Homo sapiens: one gene and its partners. The protein of the gene in region 1 purifies or fractionates together with the protein of each later gene. This does not show direct contact. Each region holds a gene or a part of one and is shown on either strand. Other genes may lie near its edges.

Region 1 (3,500 bases):
GGCCCCGTACAGTGGGAGCTGGAGTTCAGTTGTGTGGTTCTAGAGCTTGTGCTCGGCCTAGTGACAGGAGCTCTGGAGTCTGGGAGCACAAAGAGGGGCACAGGGCCACCAAGTGGGTCTTGGATCTGCCCTCCAGGTGTGGGCCCATCGCTGGATGGATCTGTCAGAACACGGCTTTGGGCTGGCCCTGCTCAACGACTGCAAGTATGGCGCGTCAGTGCGAGGCAGCATCCTCAGCCTCTCGCTGTAAGTGGGGTACCCACCAGGCCTGGGAGCTGGCATGGAGAAATGGGTCTTCCCGACCACAACTCCAACAGCTTCAGCGTGGCCCCTACGCGCCCTCCTCACCCCAGCTTGCGGGCGCCTAAAGCCCCGGACGCTACTGCTGACACGGGGCGCCACGAGTTCACCTATGCACTGATGCCGCACAAGGGTGAGTGCTGGGGACGGTGGGGCCTTCCTGCAGCCCTAGACACCTCTCTGCCCTTCCCTGAGCCCAAACCCCAGCAACCTGGCTTCCTGCCCCTTCTAGGGACAGGGGAGGGTAGCCCCCATTCTCCACCAGCATTGTTTCCTGGTCGTACCCCAGGCTCTTTCCAGGATGCTGGCGTTATCCAAGCTGCCTACAGCCTAAACTTCCCCCTGTTGGCTCTGCCAGCCCCCAGCCCAGCGCCCGCCACCTCCTGGAGTGCGTTTTCCGTGTCTTCACCCGCGGTCGTATTGGAGACCGTCAAGCAGGCAAGGGGTGGGACGTGCTGGGGACGGGGTTCCGAACTGGGCCTGCCCTCGGCCCCTCCCACCAGACGTGTTCCTCTGCAGGCGGAGAGCAGCCCCCAGCGCCGCTCGCTGGTCCTGAGGCTGTATGAGGCCCACGGCAGCCACGTGGACTGCTGGCTGCACTTGTCGCTGCCGGTTCAGGAGGCCATCCTGTGAGTGGCGGTGTGGGATTGGGGCGGGGGTCGAGTCTCGCCCTCGCAGAGCCTTCATGGCCCCTCCTGTTCTCCAGCTGCGATCTCTTGGAGCGACCAGACCCTGCTGGCCACTTGACCCTTCGGGACAACCGCCTGAAGCTCACCTTTTCTCCCTTCCAAGTGCTGTCCCTGTTGCTCGTGCTTCAGCCTCCGCCACACTGAGTCCCTGGGGCTGGGGTTTTGTTTGTAGAAGGCTCTGGGGACTCCTAATTTCTGCTTCCCCAGCCTAAAGCAGGGATCAGTCTTTTCTTGTGGAATAAATCCTTGGATCGGGAACCCTGCTGCTCAGTCCCCTTAGGGCCCATCCTCACGCTTGGGGTGGGGGTGGGAAGTCTGGGGTGGGATGGCTTCCCAGGTATTTGGTGGGTAGGGGCAAGATCCTAAGGTACCTGTGCGTGCAGGGTCTGGGTTGCAGCCCCCACAGGAGAGACTGGGGACCTCGAGCCACCAAAAGCCAGTGAAGAGACCATGAGTTGAGAAGCCCCTCCCCTGTGCCAGCAGGTAAAGGGCCTGGGCCTGGGGCTGGGGAGGGGCCGAAGGGTGGGTTTTGCCTGGCTCCTGCCAGGATGAGGGGGCAGCCCTGGACCCTGGAGAATCTGGACTGGAGGAGCTCTGGCTCCTGGGCTGCCTGGGGCCAGGGTCTTTGTACCACCTCTGAGGGGCTGTCCTTGCAGAGGCAAACTGTCCTCTGATAGAGTCAGAGCCTTGAGGACTGGGATGGGGGCTCAGTTTGCCTTGTGAGGAGCTGGGCCTTCTGTCACCAGGACCGGACAGCAGGCCCTTCCTACCTGGCCATCTCAGACCAAGAGGTGCCAAGAAGTTCAAATGTATCAGTTTATTAAAAATGCAGCATTTTTCACATGAGCTTTAAAGATGTGGAAGATGGGGTACAATTAAAACCATGAGAGTTGTGCAGGGAACAGCCGTAGGGCCTGTTTGCACCTTCAGATATTGCCTGCTCCCAAAAATTCAGACCCCCAGATGCAGGGCAAGACAATAAGAAAGGGTGAGTGCAAGCAAGGAGAGCCTCCTGCTAAGAGGCTGAGGTCCCCTCTGGTTCCAAGGATGGGATGTCAGCCTTGACCTTCCGGGGTCTGCAGTGGCCTGGGGGAAGAACAGGCAAGATGGTCAGCTAAGACTCCAGGGGCTGCCATGGCAGCCTTTCTCCCACCTTTGTACACGCGCTCCTAGGCCACCATCCCATCCTCTCCTGTAGAGCCAGTTTCTGGGAGTGATGAGGAAAGCCCACCAGAGGCTGCCTGTCGCCCCTTCCTCCTCCCCTTCTTGGGCACTGTGGGAGCTTCTGGGTCCTGCTGGAGGCTGGTCCCCTCAGGCCGCTGGGTTGCAGTCCTCTTAGGAAGGTCTCTCTTTGCCCTTCGTGTCCTGGAAGGGGCCTTGCTTGGAGGCAAAGCGTCCTGGATGGAGGAGACACGGGTCCCTGAGGGGCTCAGAAAGCAGTTCAGAGGTTGGTTAGGGCCCACCACTCCCCCCGCCCTCTTAGGGTAAGGCAGCTGCCTGGGAGGGGCAGCCAGGGCTGCAGAGTGCAGGGGAGGAGGCGGGAGCAGGCAGCCATACCTCCACTCTGTCCTCAGGACTCAGCTGTGTGGCCTTGGATTTCTTTTTGCGGGACTTGCGCCCTGCAGGACACTGGTGTTGGAGTTGGAGGGTCCTATCCTGCCCAGGGGTGACTCCCAGGGTTGCAGGGGGATAGGGTGGAGAAGGGTGCTGTAGCCCTTGCAGGCGTGAAGTCCTTTCTGCTCTCTTAGCCTATTACATTAGGAGTAGCTTACCTTTGGGTGCCAACGGTCCAGGATCCCCCTAAAATGGGATGGGGATAATTCAGGAATCAGCCTGGGTTGGCACAGGGGCGGTATTCCTTGGAGAGGCAGGACTCACACACACCCATCCAGATCAGTGTAGCTTCTCCCTTAGGAAGCCTCTAGGACATCCCCCATGTTAGAGTCCACATCAGCAAAGCTGCTCTGCCCTTGGCTACTTTCACTTGGGCTACCTGCCTTGGGCTACTTCCACTAGCTGCAACCCTGGGACGCATGGGAGGGGAGGGGTGTGACCCTCAGGAACAGTGTGGTCCTTGGAGGGTCTAGACAGACCCTGAGCATCACCACCCCAGTTATTGTGACCCCACGTTTCCACCCATCAGCCTCCTGGGGTCTCTGCCTGTGTGAACAGTAGGGCCCAACCTGGAACCAGATGGTACGGCCATGCCGGTCCTGCAGGGAGCTCATGCCTGGCATGCCATAGCAGCGCAGCCAGGCTCGAAAGGCAGCAAAGTCCTCCTCCCCGCTCTCTGACCCGTAGCCTTTGCCCCCTGTGGGACAGAGGAACAGGCAGAGATCAGAGGGCAGGCTCAGGTTGGGAGGAGTGGGGAGCCTGGTTAGACCTGGCCCAGACCTCAGCTACACAAGCTGATGGACTGAGTCAGGGGCCACACTCTCCCTCCTCTGGTGATGTGACCTCAGCTGGTTTCTTCCCACTCGGCCATGGGTTTCCCATCCTGGAGTGGGATTA
Region 2 (3,500 bases), on another chromosome or scaffold:
CGCCCTCCTCTCCAGGCCCCACTCAGCCTTGACCAAAGACCTCCATTTCCCAGAAGAAAACGGAGCCTAGGAGAGGCGGCCAGGCCAGGCCAAGGCCTCGTTGAGACCCCTCCCACCGGCCGCAGGCTCCCGGCAGGGAGGCTGGAGGCTGAAGCGGCACCCCTGGTGCAGCTCGCTGCTCAGTGAGCCCCAGCCCACATTCCACTCCCAAAGGTCCCAACTCACATCCAGAATTAGCTGCAGGGCACGCGGGGTCAGGTGGGAGCAGATGTGGCCAAACACGCTCCGGGCCACCTGGCGCATGAGGTGGCTGGGCTGGGCCAACAGGGCCAGCAAGATCTCCACCAGCACCTCTACCCACGGGGGTTCCTGGGGGTCTGCAAGAGGGAGGGGTTGAGCCCGGATAGGGGACCGCTGGCCCCACCCCACCACTCTAGTCCCTCTCGTGACCAAGGACCCACCGATGGTCTTGGTGCGGCTCCGGCGGGGCTTCTCTCCCAGACTTTTCCTGATGCAGGTCTGGATGTCACCCAGCAGGTCACAGCTCTCTGCAGGGGACTGCGGGCAGGGTAGGACACACACTGGGGCCAGGCCCTGTCCCCAGCCCTTCTAAACCAGGCAAGGGGCTGGCCAAATGGCAGCAGTGGCATCAAGAAGCCTCCAACACCCAGCCACTGGCCCGCCCTGGCCAGTCACCCCCACAATCCAGAACAGAAGACCCCAGCTGGACACCCCAAGAGCTGAGGGCTTTTGAGATGGAGTCTCGCTCTATTGCCCAGGCTGGAGTACAGTGGTCTGATCTCGGCTCACCACAACTTCTGCCTCCCAGGTTCAAGCCATTCTCCTGCCTCAGCCTCCCAAGTAGCTGGGATTGCAGGCGTGTACCACCATGCCCGGCTAATTTTTGTATTTTGAGTAGAGACGGGGTTTCACCATGTTGGCCAGGCTGGTCTTGAACTCCTGACCTCGTGATCCACCCCCTTGCCCCCCTTGGCCTCCCAAAGTGCTGGGATTGCAGGTGTGAGCCCCCGCGCCCAGCTAGCTGACGGCTTTTTCACACCTAATACGCAGTTACAGGATCCAAAAGCCTGAAGGGGACAAGGAGTCCAACTCCCCCTTGGACACTCAAGAAAGGCAGAACCTGACAAGGATGGTCAGGGTCCCAGAGAAGCCAGCAAGCCCCAGCCCCCAATTCATAATTCTAGATTATTCCCTCCATGCTTGGCTTGGCATGAGAGACAGAATTGAAAGTCATTAGTTTTAACTAATTTAATTACATTGAACTCATCTGACTGGGGATAACCCCAGACTCGAGTGAGGTGGCGTGGTGTGCGCATGTGCGTGTGCAGGAGCTCTTGAAAACTGTGTGATCTTTGGTACCTAAAAAGCAGACTTTCCCCTCATAATGCAGTCGGCAGCTTGAACGTTTAGGCCAGGGTGGGACAAAGCAGCCCAAAGCCCTTGTCATTGCTCTCCGGCTCCCAGGCTGTGTGCCCAAGCAGGTCCCCGTCCTCCTCTGGGCTGCACCTTTTTTTTTTTTTTTCTAAGACAGAATCTTGTTCTGTTGCCCAGGCTGGAGTACAGTGGTGTCATCTCAACTCACTGCAACCTCCGCCTCCCAGGTTTAAGCAATTCTCCTGCTTCACCCTCCTGAGTAGCTGGGATTACAGGCACCTGCCACCACACCTGGCTAATTTTTGTATTTTAGTAGAGAAGGGGTTTCACTCTGTTGGCCAGGCTGGTCTTGAACTCCTGACCTCGTGATCACCTGCCTTGGTCTCCGGAAGTACTGGGATTACAGGTGCGAGCCCCGAGCCTGGCCAGGGCTGCACCTTTTATCTAAGGCTCTGACACAGCAAACTGCAGCCTCCTCTGTCCAAGTCAAGTTCGGAGATCCCAAGGCTGGGGGCAGGCTCCACATGTGTCCTGGAATCACCAGGACTCTGCTGCTATCAAAGGCCTGACGTCAAGAATTGGAAGGGGCATCGTGGCCAACCTTTCCCCAAACAGCTCATCCACATGCTGGGCTCAGAATAACCAAAGCTGGCAAGTAAGGCAACCACAGTCAAGTGGCCAGACGGGAGCAAGCAAGAGACCCACCTACTCAGGCTACAGAAGACCTAAAGCAGCCCCAATAAGAGCAGCTTATGTCATGAGAAGAAAACTCAAAAGAAATCAGGGTACTGAGCCTCGAATGTGGTCAGGGCTTCTTGATGGGAAGAACCGAGCGGGAGAGCCCGTTGCCAGAAGGTGTTCCCACAGCAGGGGGTACAGTGCAAGCTCCTTTGCCTCTGAGTCTTAGTTTCTCCATGTCAAACATGGAGAGGGGGTGTCTGCCTCAAAGCTGTGGGGATTACGAGATCCTGCATGGAAAGCCTAGGACACCAGCTGGTGCCGCTAAGTGGCCGGAGGGATGTTTCCACCTGTGACAAAGTTGGCTTCAAAAACCTCCCAACTTAACTCCCCCAGAACCTTTCCTGGAAACCCGCACAGCCCTCAAAAGCCTCTCGGTAGGGGGCCCATTGTGCCATAGAACCCCAGGCTCACAGCCCCTCCCTCCCAGGCCCCAGTACCTTGAGGAGGTGGATGCCCACGAGGAGCAGAAGGTGCTGGAAGGCAGCAGCCCTGGCCTCTGCGGAGTGGGCCTCCAGCTCCTTCAGAGTCTGCAGCATCCTGCGGGGAGACAGGCGATTCCCAGGCCCCTGCACCAGTCAGACTGCAGCGTCCTGCCCACCCCCTGGAAATCCCACGTGCTCACCGGTCCCAGGCCTGGCGCTGCTGCGCAGTGAAGGGTGTCACGGTGGTCACGTTGTGGCTGTGATTCAACAGGAGGTCTGCGAACTGCACCAGGTGGTAGGTCCAGGGCTGCCCACCCTGGGTCTGGCCCGGTGCCTGCTTGAACTGCGTGCTGAGGGTCTGCAACAGACTGGGCAAGGGATGGGGCTTGGGGTCAGCAGACCAGATGAGTCAATGTAGCCGCCTCCCTCCGCCCTCCCCAGGGCTCGGTCTCCCGCCTCTCCAGGACCTACTAGAACTCCGGGGGCCTCTGCCGTTGTTCCCAGCTTAGGGGACCTGGAGGGAGCAGGCGCCCTCAAGGCCTTCCCACCTTCGGACCTCTCCTGGGCTGCCCAAGACTCACCTGAAGAAGGCACTGCTGACAGCCTCTCGGGCCTGGTTTTCCAAAGGGAAGGAGAACGGGTGCTTTGTCTCAGGGATCTGGGATGTGGGCTTCTTTGTGACAAAGAACGAGTGGAACAAACAAAACCTGGGGAGGGTGGGAGAGTGGCCATAGCCATTCACTGCCATTGGTTTTTACAGGCTCCCCTCCTTGGATGGTACCACCGAGGGTACAAGGCCAGGAGGAGGAGGAGCCGCCCTTCTGCCCTGGGTACAGTCCTCGGGGGCCTGACGGGCAAGGCTGGAGGGGGCTGGGCTGGGCTAGGATGGGAAGGGGCCGTTTCTCTGCTCTGGATCCCCAGCTGAACGCGGGTTAACCCGAG
Region 3 (3,500 bases), on another chromosome or scaffold:
ATCTCAAAAAGAAAAAAGAGTACTACAGGTTGGGTATTCCTTATCTGGAAATGTTTGGTACCAGAAGTATTTTGGATGTAGGATTTTTTTTGGGTGGGGGTGGTTTTGGAATATTAACATATACATAGTGAAATATTTTAGGGATGTGATCCAAGTCTAAACATGAAATTCATTTATGTTTCATATACAGCTTATACACCTAGCCTGAAAGTAATTTTATACTATGTATATATATGATATATATTTTTTATATATATATATATATTTTTTTTTTTTTTTTTTTTTGAAACGGAGTCTCGCTCTGTCACCCAGGCTGGTGTGCAGTGGCGCAATCTCGGCTCACTGCAAGCTCTGCCTCCTGGGTTCACGCCATTCTCCTGCCCCAGCCTCCTGAGTAGCTGAGACTACAGGCACCCGCCACCATGCCTGGCTAATTTTTTGTATTTTTAGTAGAGACAGGGTTTCACTGTGTTAGCCAGAATGGTCTCGATCTCCTGACCTCGTGATCCGCCTGCCTCAGCCTCCCAAAGTGCTGGGATTACAGGCGTGAGCCACCACGCCCAGCCATGCCAGGTATTATTTTTAGGAGGTTGAGAAACGTCAAGTGATCTGATCTAGTATGGCTTGAAATCTCAATCTTCATATCAAAAAAGAGTTTAAAAGTATAATCCTCAAAGTTACTTTGTCATTGCCAAAGAAACATTTCAGGGTTTGGAAAAACTGCTTTTTGTGTTTCATAAGATTTTTTTTTCTCATAGGATCTTGACTGGTTCTTATGATAAGACTTCTCGGATCTGGTCCTTGGAAGGAAAGTCAATAATGACAATTGTGGGACATACGGATGTTGTAAAAGATGTGGCCTGGGTGAAAAAAGGTTAGGACAGTTTGCCTACACTTAGAGGAATCCTAGATAGGGATTTGGAAATAAGCCATTTTTGGTGCTGGGGAAGAATGGGGAGTGGGTGGGAAGTATCTCATACCTCAGTTATTATGAGGTCTTTCAAAAAATACAGTGTTCAAGAAGAAAAAGATTATATAAAAAATTCATAAATTGTTAGAAGTGTATCTTTATTAAAATTACATCAGATAATATACATTTTCAAGTTAATATTGAATGTATTACATTCATCTTTTATTTTCTTCTGTTTTTGTTTGTTTGTTTTGTTTTGTTTTGTTTTGTTTTGTTTTTGAGATAGTCTCGCTGTGTCACCCAGGCTAGCGTGCAGTGGCATGATCTCGGCTCACTGCAACATCCACTTCCCAGGTTCAAGCGATTCTCCTGCCTCAGCCTCTCGAGTAGCTGGGACTACAGGCACCTACCATCACGCCTGGCTAATTTTTGTATTTTTAGTAGAGACGGGGTTTCACCATCTTGGCCAGGCTGATCTCGAACTCCTGACATCATGATCCACCCGCCTTGGCCTCCCAAAGTGCTGGGATTACAGGCGTGAGCCACTGCACCCAGCCTGTTTGTTTGTTTTTTGAGGCAGAGTCTCACTCTGTCGCCCAGGCTAGAGTGTAGTGGCTCCATCTCAACTCACTGCAACTTCCACCTCCTGAGTTCAAGTGATTCTCCTGCCTCAGCCTCCTGAGTGGCTGCAATTACAGGCGCCTGCCACCACACCCGGCTAATTTTTATATTTTTAGTAGAGGCAGGGTTTTGCCATGTTGGCCAGGCTGGTCTCAAACTCCTGACCTCAAGTGATCTGCCTGTGTTGGCCTCCCAAAATGTCAGTATTTACAGGCGTGAGCCACCACACCCAGTCATCGTCATCTATTTTTGAAGAATCTTTTCTTTATACCACATCAGCCTTTTAAAACCTGGCCATATGAGTTATCTTTTTAACATCTTTTTCAATAACAACAAAAAAATTTAGTTCTTTGGTTTCAGAACATGATGTATTCTAAATGGTATACTGATTTGTTTCTTATTCTTGTGTTCTCCTTTCTCCAGATAGTTTGTCCTGCTTATTATTGAGTGCTTCTATGGATCAGACTATTCTCTTATGGGAGTGGAATGTAGAGAGAAACAAAGTGAAAGCCCTACACTGCTGTAGAGGTCATGCTGGAAGTGTAGATTCTATAGCTGTTGATGGCTCAGGAACTAAAGTAAGTAGCTAGAATATTATTAGTACTCTGTTAAATTTGAATTTGAGCTTGTTGCTAAACATTTTCTTCTGCATATATTCATTGTGTTGGCCTAGTTTCCTAACAATCGGTGACAAAAGATAGGATTTCAAAGCAAGAGTAAATACTCATACAATAGGAGATAGTCACTTGCTCAGTTTGAATCCCTGGTTTAGAACCTTATATAAACTCCAGAAATTTTAAGAAATGAGGTATGGGCCGGGCGCGGTGGCTCACGCCTGTAATCCCAGCACTTTGGGAGGCCGAGGCGGGCAGATCACCTGAGGTCAGGAGTTCAAGACCAGCCTGACCCACATGGAGAAACCCTGTCTCTACTAAAAAAAAAAAAAAAAAAAATAAGCCGGGCATGGTGGCGCATGCCTGTAATCCCAGCTACTCGGGAGGCTGAGGTAGGAGAATCACTTGAACCCGGGAGACAGAGGTTGCAGTGACCGAGATTGCACCGTTGCACTCCAGCCTGGGCCCAACAAGAGTGAAACTCAGTCTCAAAAAAAAAAAAAAAAAAAAAGAAAGAAATGAAGTAAACAAGCCATTCATTTATATAACCTTCTTACCTCATAGTAATTGACATATTTCCAGTCTATATCAGCTACTCTTAAGTGCTGTCATCAACTGAAAACGCCTAGTTGATAGTCTGAGCATTAGCATACACTAAAGTTAGTGCTAATAGAGTTTTACTATAGTATCAATCTACTCTTTATCATGACAAAATGGTAAAAGTTAGTTAAAAGGTAACAAACCTGAGGGCAATACCATATTGATTTATTAATATGAAGGGTTATAAATCCACTTAGAATTTGAAAGTTTCCTAAGCCACATTGAAGTATTCTGGACTTAAGAGTGTTTCTTTGACAGTTAGGGTAACAGGATGCTTGTATTCAAAGGTGAAGATTTATGATTTTTCATATTGAGCCGAAAAGTTTTATATGTTGTTTAGTCCAAACTTTAGTGGATTAACTGTACCTCTTCTTTTTGGTTAAGGAGAGATAGAAACTCAACTTGAACTTATTTAACCTTAAAAGTAAATGGATTGTGAGATCCAAGGAAAGATTGAACAACCACATCACAAGAAGGGTAATGGTGCATTTGGGCCTCAGGAACCAGTGGAATAGAGGCTTGAATGTGGTCCGCACACCCTCTCGCTGTCTTGTCCCTCAAGTTGACTTTATTCTCTCTCACTTCAGATTGGCTTTCTTCAAAAGACATGGCAATAAGCTTGGCCTTCAAGATTTCCCAGATTTTATGTTCTGTCCTATCTGCCCCTGGAAAAAGGCTAATTTCAGTTCTGTGGAACACAAGTTCTTTGAAAAGGTCCTGAATGAGGAAGAGACCTACTGTTGTAGGCAAATAAT
Region 4 (3,500 bases), on another chromosome or scaffold:
TATTAAAGATGAGAAAACAAATGACGTGGTGAAAAGCAAAAAACTATAGTGAAGGAAGAATGAGAGAAAAGAAAAGAAAAAAAGAAGAGAAAACAAAGGCTTAGAGAGGCTGTGTAATTTACCCAAGACCAGCTGGCCAGCCTCCAGAGGATTTGAGATCCTAACCTAAATAGTCTAACCTGAGTCCTCCATGCCACTCCACTTTTATGACTAAGCCGTGCTAGGCTCCTCTTAGACTGTAAAGTTGTCTCTTCAGAACTTGAAACACATGTTTATGCAAAATGCAACTGTGATTGGCTGGACTGCCAGTCTTGTCCATAAGACCCTATTAAGCCCATAATGTTCCTAAAAATATAGAGGATTATAGAACTTACATCTAATAACTCTTGTAACTGTGCTTTATTGAAAAAAATAAATGTAAATGGCAAGCCAGGATCACATCTTTCCTTGTTATAATTTTAGCAGGAATGGGGCCTCTGTGAACCCTAAACCAATGGTGGTAAGCTCTAGTGGCTGGTCAGGCAGGGCAAAAGACGAGGGATACAGACTTAAGAGTCTGGTAAAGAAGCAGTGAGATGACTGAAGAGGAACATGAAAAGAACTTAGAAAGAAGCTATGGGGAAGCAAAAAATAGAACTAGGAATTTGGAGTAGGACAGTAATAAGGCAGTTTTCCTTATCTTGTCCTTAAGCTTTCCATCTGAATAACTGTGTAATACTGTGATAGGGCCAGAGGGAGAGGATAGGAGGGAGGGGGGATGGGGGAGAGAGAGCAAATGCAAATTGAAGTTTTCTCTTCCTTTATGTATTCTGTATCTTACTATCTATCCCCTTCCAGTGGGCAGCTGCACTGCAAACCCCACAGCTAAACAGCATTATTTAATGAAAGAATGGAGGCTGGTGGAAGAGGACACTCTTGTGAGGCCTACATTGCTGAGACTAGATAGATCCTAAGCAGAGGCAAGAAGGATATACAGTCATAGCAGGATTCAATTTGGCGGCAACAGTGCGTAAGTCTGAGGATTGAGATTGTCTGTACTGGTCTTTAGCCATTTGATTAACGATACTTTAATGTCTCTATTAAGACCCAAAAGAGTTATGTCAACCATTTTTCCCTGTTTATTTCCTTCTATATATTTTTAATAATAATACGGTTTGTTTGGATTTATTATTAATATCTGGTAACATTATTTAACCATCTTGTAATATTGCATTTGATTGATTTTTCTTTCTTTATGCATTCTCTAACATTCCCACTGATCTATTCAATTGCTCTGGTCTTAATTTTATAAATAAGCAATAACTATGAAACTCTGTGTTGGCAATTTGAAAATAATATTTAGCAGCATATTTTCCAAGTACATACACAACACACAAATTCCATAAATTAGAAATAATTATGGCCCCAAATTACCATTTACATTTATTTTCTATTCAAGAACTCTCTCTCTGAAAGTATAATAATAAAAATATGAACGATACTTACCCTACTAGGCCTACATCAGCTATAAGTTTTAGATCAAGGTGAATTATTCGTTTCTGGCCTTTCAATGGTAAGAAATTTGTAAGTAATTTACCACCAAGACCTCCTTGAGCTACCAAAATTCTGTCATTTTCTTTATTGAGTTCTCCTTAAAAAGAGGGAGAGAAATACTTACAGCAAAGATTAATAAGTGAAATCACTAATGCAATATATTTCTTTCAGAAATACAGGCAAAGAAATGCAAAATTACAAATCTATAGATTAGTAAGTGAAATCATTAATGTAATATTTTACTTTCAAAAATACATGCCAGGAAATTCTCAATTACAAATCTATAATTAATAAGTAGAATCATTAATGTAATATTGTTCTTTCAGAAAAACAGTCCAGGAAATTCCAATTTACAAATCTATTAAAAGTTTGACCCCAGAAAAACACTTCAGTAAACAATTGAAAAGAGCCTAGTTATATATTTTAAGACCAAGTAAGAACTGTAACATCTTTAAAACAATCTTAAATCTAGCAGTCAATTTAACTTTTATAAGTTTTAAAAATGCTCTCTTATAGAATAGTAGCTAAAATTGTTAGTTAAAAAATCTTCTGAAACTCAAGAGAAGCTATTCCATTGTTTCATTTTAGAAAACGTGCACATTTTTACAACTTTTGGAGTTATAGTACACTCACCTATAATTTTACCATTTTCATCAGTTACTGAAATACCCACAGGCACAGGGATTTCACAGTCTTTTCCTTTGGAGCCTTTCAGTGCACTAATTCTACCAAAAAAAAAGTATATATATGTATGTATGTGTGTGTGTATATATACACACACACACATACACACAAAATGGTTTACAAAGAAGAGTAGCAATCAATTCTCTGGTTAACGCAGATGTTAAATGGTCAAACACGGGGTTTAAAAAAACTAAAATTATCCCTAATTATTTCTTTGCATTTTAGACTATTATATCCCACTAAAATGGCATTAAGTAATGATTTAAGTTACTAAGCTAACCACCAAAGGTCATTTTAACCCGAAACTAAAATATTGCAACCATGAAATGAAGAGATTATTGCTACAATACAAATAGGGTAGAAAAAGCCAGGCGTGGTGGCTCACGCCTGTAATCTCAGCACTTTGGGAGGCGGAGGCAGGAGGATCTCTTGAGTCCAGGAGTTCAAGACAAGCCTGAACACCATAGCACGACCCCATTTCTACAAAAAAAGAAAAATTTAAAAATTAGCTGGGCATGGTGGCACATACCCGTAGTCTCAGCTACTTGGGAGGCAGAGGTGGGAGGATCACTTCAGCCTGAAAGGTAGAGGCTGCAGTGAGCTATGATAGTGCCCACTACACTCAACCTAGGCAACAGAATGAGACTCTGTCTCAAAAAAAAAAGAAAAAATGAATCTATAAAAAAAAAAAGAAAATCCACCAAATAGCAAAGCTTTTAAAAAACTAACCTCAAATGAGAGTACTTACATTATAGAAGGCAAATCTGGCTACTCTTAAACTGCTCATAAAAGAAAAAATTAGTACAAATGTTTTAGTAATTCTACTTCTGGGAATTTATCAAAATAATAATTGAACAAACATGTAAAATAGTATCTACACAGAATGCTGCACTGTGGTTATAATCGGAAAAAAAAATCAACAATAACCTAAATAGACAAATGACAAAATAGTTATTTATTATGCAGGTATTCTGAATAATTTTGACATGTGAAAAAAAGTAAAAATAGCAGATTGTAAAATACTGTACTCTCATTTTTGTATTCTAAACTTTTAGGCACATAATTGCATTTGTGTAAACACACAGAAAAGTCTTAGAAAAGTCAAGAAAAGGTTAATAGTGGTTATCTTGCCTTCTAATGGTGGTGGGGTAGAGTAGCATGGTTAAGACTGAAAGTTTTCTAAAAGGTTGTCAAAGATAATTTTAGAAGAAAACAGTGGGAATTCAGATAATTATCGGTTTCTACAGGGGAAGTGCAAAAAGAATACAGATAGACATTGGGAA
Region 5 (3,500 bases), on another chromosome or scaffold:
CCCTCCACAAACCCCCGCCAAAAAAAAAGGGCATTTACATTCCCATAAAAGTTAACAGAAGTACCCATTCCTCAGAAAGTATATGGAACATGTTAAAATACGTGCAGGGCCAGGCATGCTGGCCCATAACTATAATCCCTGTACTTTGGGAGGCCGAGGAGAGAGGATTGCTTGAGGCCAGGAGTTTGAAATCGGCCAGGGCAACATTACATGACCCCATCTCTACAAAACAGCCCTAGCTACTTGGGAGGCTGAGGATTGCTTGAGCCCCAGAGTTCAAGGTTATAGCGAGCTGTAATTGCACCACTGTACTCTAGCCTGGGAGACAGAGCAAGACCCTGCCTCAGAAAAACAAACACACAAAATACATGCAAATTTTATTCATGTAGCTAAAATACGAATCATATGCATATTTTAAAATACAAGCAAAATATTTACAAAATGAAAATTAACATTAACACACCTCCTGACGTCCACCAGAACATGCCAATGAAAGCGGAGTATCCTTAGTTCGTTCAGACTGTGCTTCTATATCTCCACCTTTATCCAAAAGGATTTCAACAACTCCAACATGCCCTGCTGTTGCTGCCAGGATTAGTGGTGTGAAACCTAAATCAGAAAATGAAAATCTTAAACAAATTTATGTTTTTTATTTTATTTTAAAGCCACTGTTTACAATTCTCTAGTATTTTAGCAAAATAAATCCTTCAGGGCAGACACTGATAATGAGTTAACATAAAACTGCTCTAAACCCTAATTTGTTAGTGACAAAAAACCCATAAACACCTAATTAAAAAACTAAGTCGGTAAAAATTATTAAAGTTTATACTCATAATGAACTTTGATGCCTCTGTATGAACTACCTTTGGATTAACAAAGGCAACCACAACTTGCTCTATTTCACTAATGATCTACGTCTAATTTTTGAATGTTTTGAGAATTATTTGGCTCCGCAGAATAATGAATCCAGATATTCCTAACTGAAATATACTTATCCATCTTATCACTGAGATAGTCTAGGAACTATTTATCAATAATAAAAAAGTTAATTATTTTCTGATGTAACTACACTTGGATTTTATTTCTGACTGATATTTACCTTTTTTGTCTCTGTGTTCAATTTTGGCATCCCGTGCAATGAGCACAGATACAAGTTCTTCATGACCACCTGCACAAGCTAGTGTTAATGCTGTGTCATGATTGCTCTCAGTCTAGGAGAAGAAAAAAATAAGTTAAAATTTTTTTTAACAGAAGTTATCAATTTAAGAGCAAATAATATTTCTTTTCACAATAAATGCAGAATAATTTTCCTTTCCAAAGAAGATCAGAATGTGCAAAATAAGTTTAAATAAAGCAATCTACTCACATGTGCATCAATGTCAACTGAAGGATACACAGGAGGCATCGATTGGGAAGCCACATTGCTTGTAGTCTGCGAACAGGATTCAGGTGTAAGACACTCTGTGGTCTGAGAAGAACTGTTGGAACCAGTGGGCACTCTGGTACTCACAGCTGAAAAACAATATTCATATTGCTAAATTCCACTTAAAAGAGTAAGGTTATTTGTACATAGAAAAACACAAAAACAGAAATTTCCATAGCAGTAATATGTAGTAATAGTAAAATCACAAGCTTTGGAATCAGACAGACCTACATTTAAATATTAGTTCCAACACTGACTTTCTGATCTTGGGCAAGTAATTTAACTTCTCTGAGCTTCAATTTTCCCTATATGTAGAATGGCGAAAATAATGGTACCTGCCTTGGAAGGTTATTGGAAAGACCACTGAGGCAATGCAGATAAAATACTTAACACAGCACCTGATATTTAGTGCACATACATTAAATAGTAGCTTTTTGCATTGCCAACAGGGAGGAAAAAAAATTTCCAAAAATAAAAGTAAATAAAAGGAATTCTAGATTTTAGTTTGTAAAAAAGTCAATTAGATAAAAATATCCTGTGTACAATTCAAAAAAAGGGGGCTGGGCGCAGTGGCCCACGCCTGTAATCCCAGCACTTTGGGAGGCCGAGGCGGGTGAATCACCTGAGGTCAGGAGTTTGAGACCAGCCTGGCCAACATGGTGAAACCCCATCTCTACTAAAAAAAACAGAAAGTTAGCCAGGTGTGGTGGTACATGCCTGTAATCCCAGCTACTTGGGAGGCTGAGGCAGAAGAATTGCTTGAACCCAGGTGGAGGCTGCAGTGAGCTGAGATCACGCCACTGCCCTCCAGCCTGGGTGACAGAGCTAGACTACATCTAAAAAAAAGGGTGGGGGAGGGGAGGGAGACAAGTTCAAGTATTTCTCACATAAATAGCAGGGAGTATGTGTTTCCTAAATTCAATATTTATTTTGAAACTTTGTTAAAAAATCAGTATCTGAAAGTCCAACTATTTTTAAAATGAACATTGAAGTTCTATTTGAGATCTCAAAATGTGGTTTGAAAACTGAGTTAAGTCCAGGAGCGATGGCTCACGCCTATAATCCTGGCACTTTGGGAGGCTGAGGTGGGCAGATCACCTCAGGTCAGGAGGGTTGGGAGTTCAGGACCAGCCTGGCTACCATGGCAAAACCCCGTCTCTACTAAAAACACAAAGTTAGCTGGGAGTGGTGGAACGCGCCTGTAAGCCCAGCTACTCGGGAGGCTGAGCCAGGAGAATCGCTTTAACCTGGGAGGCGGAGGTTGCAGTGAGCTAGGATCGCACCACTGCACTCCAGCATGGGCAACAGAGTGAGACTCCATCTCAAAAAAAAAAAAAAAAAAAAAAAAAAAAAAAAGAAAGAAAACTGAGTTAAAAGAAATTATGTATTTTATATCTCTGAAAATTTCTTATGTTTCTTAAGAGATGGAGTTTGACCACGGGGGGAAACAGGACCTATCTCAGGGATGTTGTGAGTAGTCTAAGAGATACTGTATATAAAGCATTTAACACAGTGTTTTTAGCAAATGGTGGGTGCTCAATAGATGTAACTATCAGATATTTTATAGGATTGTCAATACTATTATTCATTGTATTGAAAAATAAAAACATTATTCACTCAAGAAAGGAAAAACTCAGAAAAAAACATATAATCAGTAATAATATACAAAAAAATCAACAAAGCATCAGTGATGGCAATAACCTTACATTTGCACCCAGATTAAAAGTCAGTCAAAAACACGTAGGACTTAAAGAAAAATGTAAGCATTTTAAGTGTTGGAAAATATTTTCTCTCTAGAATTTTTGATATGACTAGATCCCATTCAAAGATACTATTCGTAAGTGTGAATGACTCAGTTTAGTAGATTACTAGTTTAAATAAGTGAGCAAAGTTTAAGATGCCCAGATATATTTCTACATGAGCTACCCAGCTCATCCCCACCAACATATATAACCATCTTGGCAATACAAATTTCTCCAGCTTCTGTCATCACATAAATAACATAATTTAACTATTTAGTTACAAATAGGAATAATTATTACATATGTTTGTTTCACCTATAAGAATATGCAAAATG
Region 6 (3,500 bases), on another chromosome or scaffold:
TGAACCCTGTTCAGGGTACACAGTTGATTCTCAAATATCTGTTATTGATGAACGACTGTTAGATTAATCTATAGTGAATAAAACTTGACATGATCAACAAGACCTGCACGACCTGGTTCCTACTCTTTTCTCTAGGCTAACCTTGCCCTGATGTTGCCTTGTTCTCCTTCTCTTCTTCTCTGTCACACAGAATTGATTCCAGTTCTTCACTCTCACCTGGCTTCCTTCTGCCTTCCCCCTCTCCTCCCATCTTATCCCTTAGAGCTCAGCTCAAACAGCACTTCTGGGGGACGCCTTCCAGTTAGGTTAGAAATGCTCATCATACTGTATGCTTTTCCCTTACAACCACATATCTGGTAAATCGTTTGATTAATGTCAGTCACCCCCCTAACTTTAGGCTGCCTGATCTCCAGCATCTGGCAAAGGACCCGGGCTTCATGCTCAGGAATTATTTTTAAAATGAATAATCACATAAACGGGGCTTGGCACATCATAAACTATTCTAAAGGCCTCTATGGAAAAGGATCAAACAAAAATAACAAAAAAAGCCCACTGGAAAAGCTCACCTGCAGGAGGCACCGGTTCGTCATGGCTCGATAGCAGGCTCTGTGGCTCTTGACTGTTGGCCTCTCCCCAAGGCAGTAGCCCCACTTCTTGACCATATGAAACCGCTTGGCGTGCCAGATGTGAGTTTCTAACCAAATGTTCTTCTTTTGTCTACGGTTAAATTCTAGCGTCCGGTTCATGTGACATCTTCGAGCTTTATGGCATTTATTTTTTGAATGTTCTTTTTTCTGATGTACGGCTTTCTCCGCCTATAGTTTCAAGTAGAGGGACATATCCCAGTTTGTAAGAATCTCAAAACAGAGTTAACGGTCAGGAATGCAAACAAATAACTTTAGATTAAGTGGAATATTTTATAGATCCCATTAGTTTGCTTAAATTGTTAACTTAGTTTCTTCAATGTAAGTAGAGAAGGAAGACAATGGAAAGAGTGAATGTTTTAGAGCTAGGAGACCTAGGAAGGAGGCACAGTTCCATCACTCACTAACTAGGCAAGTTTCATGGAATATGAAGATCAGAATACTTATAAAATGTTCAACACAGTAACACAAGCTTAATATGGCTATTAGTATTAGAGGGCAAGAAAGAAGAAATCAAATGCTAGCTTCTTGTTGTCATTTTAACCTGTAGAATTGTAACTAAAACCAAAAACTTAAGACCAAAAATAATACAAGTGAGGAAAACCCATACATTTCATCTCAGTTAAGCTACAGACATACACATGCTGAATGCTATCACTGGGAAACAGATTTTATATTAAATCTAGAAAGTATAAAATTCCTTGTTAGTTTTCCCTCTTGAACTCAAACCCCACCACCAGCATAGCAATGGTACATAGAAGGCTGCTCAATAAATAGGTTTTAAACCAATTAGTAAAGACATGGGCTTAATCTTAGAATGTTCAAGTCTAGAATTCTGGTGAAGCCAAAACACAATTAGACTTGTACAAAAATTAAAACCCAGTTCAAGTTTTCAACTTCGAAAAAGTCAGAAAGCAAATGCTAAGCATTGACATTGCTTTTTTTTAACCTTCCTACCCCAAGCTGGGCACACCCTAGAAACACAGATCCAAAACCACTCGGTAAGAGGGTCAGAGTTTTTTTTTAACATCTGGGAAGGGAACATCAACTATTCAACACCCTTACAAGAGAGGAGTATCAAATCCTATATTTCAAAGCACCCATAATAGCCAATTGCCTGTGAATTTCGTTTGAAGGGAAGAAGTTTGGATAATGATTAAATCAAATATATGCAAAACAAAAACAAAAACCATAAGGGTGATGTTTTCTGAGTTTTTTTTTTCTTTTTAGACAAGGTCTCACTGTCACCCAGGCTGGAGTACAGTAGCATGATCACAGCTCATTGCAGCCTCAACCTCCCCTGGCTCAGGGTACCCTCCCATCTCAGTTTCCAAGTAGCTGGGACTACAGGCACACATGTACCATCACGCCCAGCTAATTTGCGGATTTTTTTGTAGAGACAAGGTTAGGCCATATTGCCCAGGCTGGTCTTGAACTCCTGGGCTCAAGCAATCTGACCACCTCAGCCTCTCAAAGTGCTGAGATTACAGGCGTGAGCCACCATGCCCAGCCTTGGTTTTCATTTTTAATAAATTCTATTAGGTCAATACTTCTCAATTTCTTCTAGGAGCTACTAATCTAAACATTTACACTAAGTGGAACTCCTACCTCTTTCTGGGCAATCTCCTGTAACCGTCTGGGAAGGCGTTTGACGTTGTGGCTCATGGCTCTTCGTCGCATGTGCCGTGGCAGAGTCTGAAAAACCAGTGAATTCGAAGACTTCTGGGTCACAGCTTTTAACATAGCACTGATTTCAGCAGCTCGTGCTTGAGCAAAAGTAGAAGCTGTTGAAGGAGATGACAAAGTCATTAAACACCAATCTTGAATTAACATTGGAGAATAAACAGGCTGCTGGGGAAACTTAACTGAATTCCTCCACCAAGAAGGCGTAAAGAGAGACCAGAAAGCATATCTAAGGTATAGGTACAAGGTACAAGGAATATAGGGTTTAATTGTGGTAGTGTGGATGGGGATCATAGGGTGAAGAACAGAAGAGGATGGAAAGGGCCTGGAGACAGGCCCTTTAAATAAAGGTTTGGTTGCCATTTGTGTGTACTCAATTTTCCATCCTTGGAGAATGCTGTGCTGAGTGTGGATGGCATATTTAAAACAAGAGGGGCACGGGGGCTAAGACAAAGAGGAACAGTTCACAAAGACTTGTAAGAAGAAGAGTAAGAGACAGGGAGAGAAACTGAAGAAGGGAGAGCCATCAAGCCCAAGGAAGCTCTGGCCAAAGTCCAGGCTAGAGGCGAGAAGGGTCTAAAGTAGGAGGAGGAGAGGAGAGGTAGGGGAGGCAGAGCCAGGACCACAAGGAGGGCAGTTTGTTGCTGCACTAGACACGAGAGTTCAAAATACAAGCAAACTGCACCTCTTTATGAGTACCCACCAGTTATATACTTGGGGATCTCCTGAGACGTGCCCTCGGGACCTGCTTTCCATCCTCCCTTTTTTCTAAACATCCCTTTGGAGGAAGACTGCTCATTCACTTCAGGGTCAGGCAGAGAATGGGGGTTGACTCTGGTTTGCCGCTGTCGTGAAGTTCCAGGATGAGGCTCTAGTATATTTTCAAAAAGAAACATGTCACCTTTATCAGAGATAAACATTATAGTGGAGAACTAATATTTGTTGGGTGGCAACATTGACCATGTTTTTAATCCTATAGTCACCCTGTAAGGTGGCTATTACTACTTATTTTTAAAGAGGAATCTTACGTAGGAAGGTGAATTAACTTGCTCGAGGTCACAAAGCTAGTAGGTAGCACACAAGGTAATCATGTCAGGATGACATATAAAGGACCTTGGATATAACAGATACAGGTGAAATTTTCTCCTATAAACGGTGCAACATGAATTTCAA
Region 7 (3,500 bases), on another chromosome or scaffold:
CCTGCAGGGATGAGGCGGCTTCTCACAGCTGGTCAGGTGGTTCTGGGTTCAGGTGCTGGCTATCCAAATATGCTCACTTAGTAACCACTCATTGAGCCAGACACTTGTAATGTGGCCACATGTTTACACTTCAATAGAGAATTTCCTAAAATGTACTTCCTGGGTGTGAACTACGTGCTGTGCATCAATTAGAGAGCAGTGTGCACCAGCGTCTGCCCTCTGGGCCGATGCCCTGGGGACCATGAGGGGTCTGAGCCTGCGCCGAGCCACGCCTTTCCCAGCCAGTGCTCAGACACCCCAGAGCACAAGCTAGGTCTCTGTGGCCTTGTGTTTTCAGCCTTGCCATGCGCTGGGAACAGCGGTGTCCCTGCGATGTCAATAGTGGCATCAACTCCCAAGACCTACCGCTAGGCAAAGAGTGGTGTGGCCCAACCCGGGGGGTGGGCTCTGAGCCTCACTTTCTCCTGTAACTAGGCCTGACAATACCAACCTCACAGGTTTGGAGTTCATGAGGCGCTGTGTCGGCAGCTTTCAGGACCCTTTACACTCTCAAAAGTTAGGGAGTCCAAACAGCTTTTGTTTATTGGATAACTGTATTCTCTAAACTTGGAAATTTAAAAAATATATTAATTCATTTAAAAATAACCCATTACGTGTTAGTTATTTCTCCAAAAATAAGCTAAGTAAGAAGAGTGGTCCTGTCTCCCATTTCTGCAAATCTCCTTACTATCTGGCTGAATCGGAGGCAGCTGGGCCCTGGGGTCCACCTCTGCTCAGTCCACCCTCCTGGGCTCTGGGGACGCTGTGGGGAAGCCAGGCCTCATGGATGCCTGAGGCTGGAAAGGGAGATGGGTTTGTTTTTACAGCCTTTCTGCATGGCTGGGAGTCTCCAGCCCTGAGGCCACATCAAGCTGGACAAAGGTGGGTTTCTGCAGGCCTGTGACAACTCTTTGCCACTCCATCCCCATGTGACTTCGTGACACTCTGCTGGTCATTCAGGAAGGATCTCCCACCGAGTCAAGTAGGTCTTCCAAAGGCTGACACATTTCACTGGCAATGGTGGAAACATTCCATCTGTCACCCCCACAGACCTCACCAGAAAAGTCTCTAGGTGTTGGGAAGACACCAAGCTCATGGCAAGCGACGTTAAGTTTTCCAAAATTCTGGTTTTCACTTGAATTTTACTACTGTAACAGATGTTGCCACTAGTTCTCCATGAAGCGACAGGTTCGATCATTTTTGGAAAAAGTCTGCCCAACACCTTGGGGTGAATACCCAGGGTGTGTCCACAAGGACTTCCTTCAAGCGCCGGCATACCCAAAGGTGTCACGAGAAATTTTATCTGGTCACAGTGAAACACTCGAGGCTTAGTAAGATGTACTGTTCACTTCCTCATCCAGGGCGTTTCTTACTGTGATCCGGGCACAGTCTGGCTGCTCTGGGCTGACTCTTGCAGAAGCACCAGGGGGTCACCAGCAGTGTGAGCGTCAGCAGAGTGAAAAAGGGCAGGTGAGGCCTCTGTGTTATCCAGGGAAGCCGGACACGGTCTTGCGGGCCCCAGGGGCCCAGGCCCTGAGAACAGCTGTTCTTCATGAAGCACTGAATGCACAGCCCACGTTAAGGCCCGGGCTCAGCTCCCCTAACAGCCTGTCCTGGCTGCTGTGCATGCTGCCACATGAGGCTTGGATGAATTCTCAGGCAATGACTGAGTTTTACAGAGGACACAGGCTCCCCACATGCCCCAGAGACACCACTTGATCCAAGACCATACCATCAAGACCTTGGGCACAAAGTGCCCTGACCTCAAGCAGTGGCTATGTGAAGCCGCTCAGGGGAAGCTGATGGGCCAGTTCCTTCTCCCCAGTCCACATTCCCTTGATGCCGCTTCTCTGTAGAAGCCCCTGCCCTGGGCAGAGCCCCGTTACCTGCAGTGACACCATTCTGGAGGGAGCCCTCGTAGAAGATGTTGGATGGGAAGGCGCTGAGTGCAGGGTGCATCCGGTACTGGACCTGCAGGCGGATGGGCCGGATGCCCAGCACCACCAGGCGCTCGAAGAGCGACTGTGACAGCCCGGCCTTGGCCGCCTTCTTGCACATCACCACTGGGCCCAGCTGGCAGTGGTCGCCTACAAGGATCAGCTGTAGGAACAGGGGCCCCCACAAGTCAAGAAGCTCAGGTGTGAATCAGCCTCAACACACACTAGCAAGGAAGTAGGGGCCCCAGGATGCACAGGACACCACCTGGCCACAGGGGCATTGCTCACCACGCACACTGGACGTGCAGCTGGCAGAACCCACCCTCTATAAACCCCTCAGGGAGCCCCCAGTGTGCGCACACTCTGCTGGGCATCCTACGTCAATACAAGGTGTTTTAAAAGACAAACACCAAGAATCACACACACGAGTTTTCACACAGGAGGGCAGGGGAGGCAGCCCACCTGCTTGGCCCCGAGGACCACGGGAACCATGCACTCCGGCTCGGTGGCCTGGGTGCTTTCGTCGATTAAAATGGAGCGGAACTGCATCTTGGCCAGCCTCGGGTCACCGGCGCCCACACATGTGCAGCAGATGACATCTGCGTTCTGGGGAAGGGTGCAGAGGCATCAGGGCACCTGCACTGTAAACGCCACCAGACCCCGGAGGGCAGGTGGGACAGAACACAGAAGCTCTCCTGTTTCTCACCCTCCCTGACACTATAAAAAACAAGCTGTCCCTCCCAGACAAGATACATGGTCCAGGCTGTGGTGATTACAAACTTTTAAGATCCTTAAACGGTCATGTTTCACAGAAGGCAACCTCTCCACACCAAGAGCTCTGCGCCTCACGACAGCCTCCAAGGGGCAGTGCTGAGCTGCTGGAACCTGCACTCAGGCTGATTCCAGTTCAGGCTGGTTGGTTATGAAAGAGCAGGAGTGTTCTAGATCCACTGCCGGATCCCAGTGGAGGCTGGCAGGGAGTGGAGACTCCCTAGAAGACCGTGTTCCAGGCAGCGAGATGTCCCTAATTTACTGTACAACTGAGCGCAGAGAGGCCAAGTAGAGAGCATCTAAGTTCTCTTTCCAGAAGCAAAGCAACAATTCAAATAGGTGCTTTGGCCCAAACAAAAACCATCAGGCCGCCAGCCCACAGGCCCTTTTGCAGGCAGGAGGGGCACTCACCATCAGCAGCTCTCTCTCTGCGGTGCGCTTCAAGGCCCGGTACCGCTTCTCGTCGGCAGACGACAGCTCCCCAGTCTCGTCTTTCAGCTGCTGCAGCTTCTGCAGCTCAGGCATGCTGGAAGCACATGCAGGTCAGCAGGGTGCCTGAGTTCTGTACATGTCACCCGCAGAAGCTCAGGGACCAACTGGGAGGGATGGACTCGACACACACCTGTCCATGTTCCTGATCTGGTTGTGCAGGGCCAGAAAAGACACCGGGGAGTCGATGGCCTCACGGCTCTTGGCGCAGAGGCGCACGACCTTTAGCCCCGTCTGGTGGATCTTCTCCGTTAGCTGGTCCAC

Evidence for each region.
Region 2: the proteins of NEIL1 (region 1) and MYBBP1A purify together in Homo sapiens (affinity purification with mass spectrometry; one large-scale study listed by BioGRID and IntAct). This does not show direct contact.
Region 3: the proteins of NEIL1 (region 1) and WDR12 purify together in Homo sapiens (affinity purification with mass spectrometry; one large-scale study listed by BioGRID and IntAct). This does not show direct contact.
Region 4: the proteins of NEIL1 (region 1) and GTPBP10 purify together in Homo sapiens (affinity purification with mass spectrometry; one large-scale study listed by BioGRID and IntAct). This does not show direct contact.
Region 5: the proteins of NEIL1 (region 1) and ANKHD1 purify together in Homo sapiens (affinity purification with mass spectrometry, with the first as the bait; one large-scale study listed by BioGRID). This does not show direct contact.
Region 6: the proteins of NEIL1 (region 1) and POP1 purify together in Homo sapiens (affinity purification with mass spectrometry; one large-scale study listed by BioGRID and IntAct). This does not show direct contact.
Region 7: the proteins of NEIL1 (region 1) and UPF1 purify together in Homo sapiens (affinity purification with mass spectrometry; one large-scale study listed by BioGRID and IntAct). This does not show direct contact.

Annotation. Positions count from the first base shown.
Region 1 is NC_000015.10:75,353,539-75,357,038, reverse strand, and holds part of NEIL1 (endonuclease 8-like 1), read right to left. Parts: intron 3,429-3,500; exon of another isoform or gene 3,354-3,428; intron 3,301-3,353; coding exon 3,173-3,300; intron 2,790-3,172; coding exon 2,762-2,789; intron 2,609-2,761; coding exon 2,547-2,608; intron 2,387-2,546; coding exon 2,221-2,386; intron 2,076-2,220; coding exon 2,005-2,075; 3' UTR 1,134-2,004; coding exon of another isoform or gene 1,007-1,133; 3' UTR 930-1,006; coding exon of another isoform or gene 820-929; 3' UTR 739-819; coding exon of another isoform or gene 590-738; 3' UTR 434-589; coding exon of another isoform or gene 354-433; 3' UTR 247-353; coding exon of another isoform or gene 137-246; 3' UTR 1-136. Other genes in the region: MAN2C1 (alpha-mannosidase 2C1), read left to right, coding at 137-246, 354-433, 590-738, 820-929, 1,007-1,133. UniProt on the Homo sapiens protein: Involved in base excision repair of DNA damaged by oxidation or by mutagenic agents. Acts as a DNA glycosylase that recognizes and removes damaged bases.
Region 2 is NC_000017.11:4,545,385-4,548,884, forward strand, and holds part of MYBBP1A (myb-binding protein 1A), read right to left. Parts: intron 3,266-3,500; coding exon 3,140-3,265; intron 2,927-3,139; coding exon 2,759-2,926; intron 2,674-2,758; coding exon 2,574-2,673; intron 559-2,573; coding exon 462-558; intron 378-461; coding exon 226-377; intron 1-225. UniProt on the Homo sapiens protein: May activate or repress transcription via interactions with sequence specific DNA-binding proteins. Repression may be mediated at least in part by histone deacetylase activity (HDAC activity).
Region 3 is NC_000002.12:202,894,674-202,898,173, reverse strand, and holds part of WDR12 (ribosome biogenesis protein WDR12), read left to right. Parts: intron 1-758; coding exon 759-874; intron 875-1,954; coding exon 1,955-2,109; intron 2,110-3,500.
Region 4 is NC_000007.14:90,353,216-90,356,715, reverse strand, and holds part of GTPBP10 (GTP-binding protein 10), read right to left. Parts: intron 2,259-3,500; coding exon 2,167-2,258; intron 1,631-2,166; coding exon 1,486-1,630; intron 1,010-1,485; exon of another isoform or gene 1-1,009. UniProt on the Homo sapiens protein: May be involved in the ribosome maturation process. Complements an ObgE(CgtA) function in E.coli ribosome maturation. Plays a role of GTPase in vitro. When missing, disorganization of the nucleolar architecture is observed.
Region 5 is NC_000005.10:140,502,833-140,506,332, reverse strand, and holds part of ANKHD1 (ankyrin repeat and KH domain-containing protein 1), read right to left. Parts: intron 1,513-3,500; coding exon 1,367-1,512; intron 1,212-1,366; coding exon 1,100-1,211; intron 610-1,099; coding exon 464-609; intron 1-463. Other genes in the region: ANKHD1-EIF4EBP3 protein, read right to left, coding at 464-609, 1,100-1,211, 1,367-1,512. UniProt on the Homo sapiens protein: May play a role as a scaffolding protein that may be associated with the abnormal phenotype of leukemia cells. Isoform 2 may possess an antiapoptotic effect and protect cells during normal cell survival through its regulation of caspases.
Region 6 is NC_000008.11:98,127,293-98,130,792, reverse strand, and holds part of POP1 (ribonucleases P/MRP protein subunit POP1), read right to left. Parts: intron 3,199-3,500; coding exon 3,031-3,198; intron 2,429-3,030; coding exon 2,253-2,428; intron 816-2,252; coding exon 567-815; intron 1-566. UniProt on the Homo sapiens protein: Component of ribonuclease P, a ribonucleoprotein complex that generates mature tRNA molecules by cleaving their 5'-ends. Also a component of the MRP ribonuclease complex, which cleaves pre-rRNA sequences.
Region 7 is NC_000019.10:18,855,959-18,859,458, reverse strand, and holds part of UPF1 (regulator of nonsense transcripts 1), read right to left. Parts: coding exon 3,370-3,500; intron 3,274-3,369; coding exon 3,159-3,273; intron 2,583-3,158; coding exon 2,439-2,582; intron 2,140-2,438; coding exon 1,926-2,139; intron 1-1,925. UniProt on the Homo sapiens protein: RNA-dependent helicase required for nonsense-mediated decay (NMD) of aberrant mRNAs containing premature stop codons and modulates the expression level of normal mRNAs.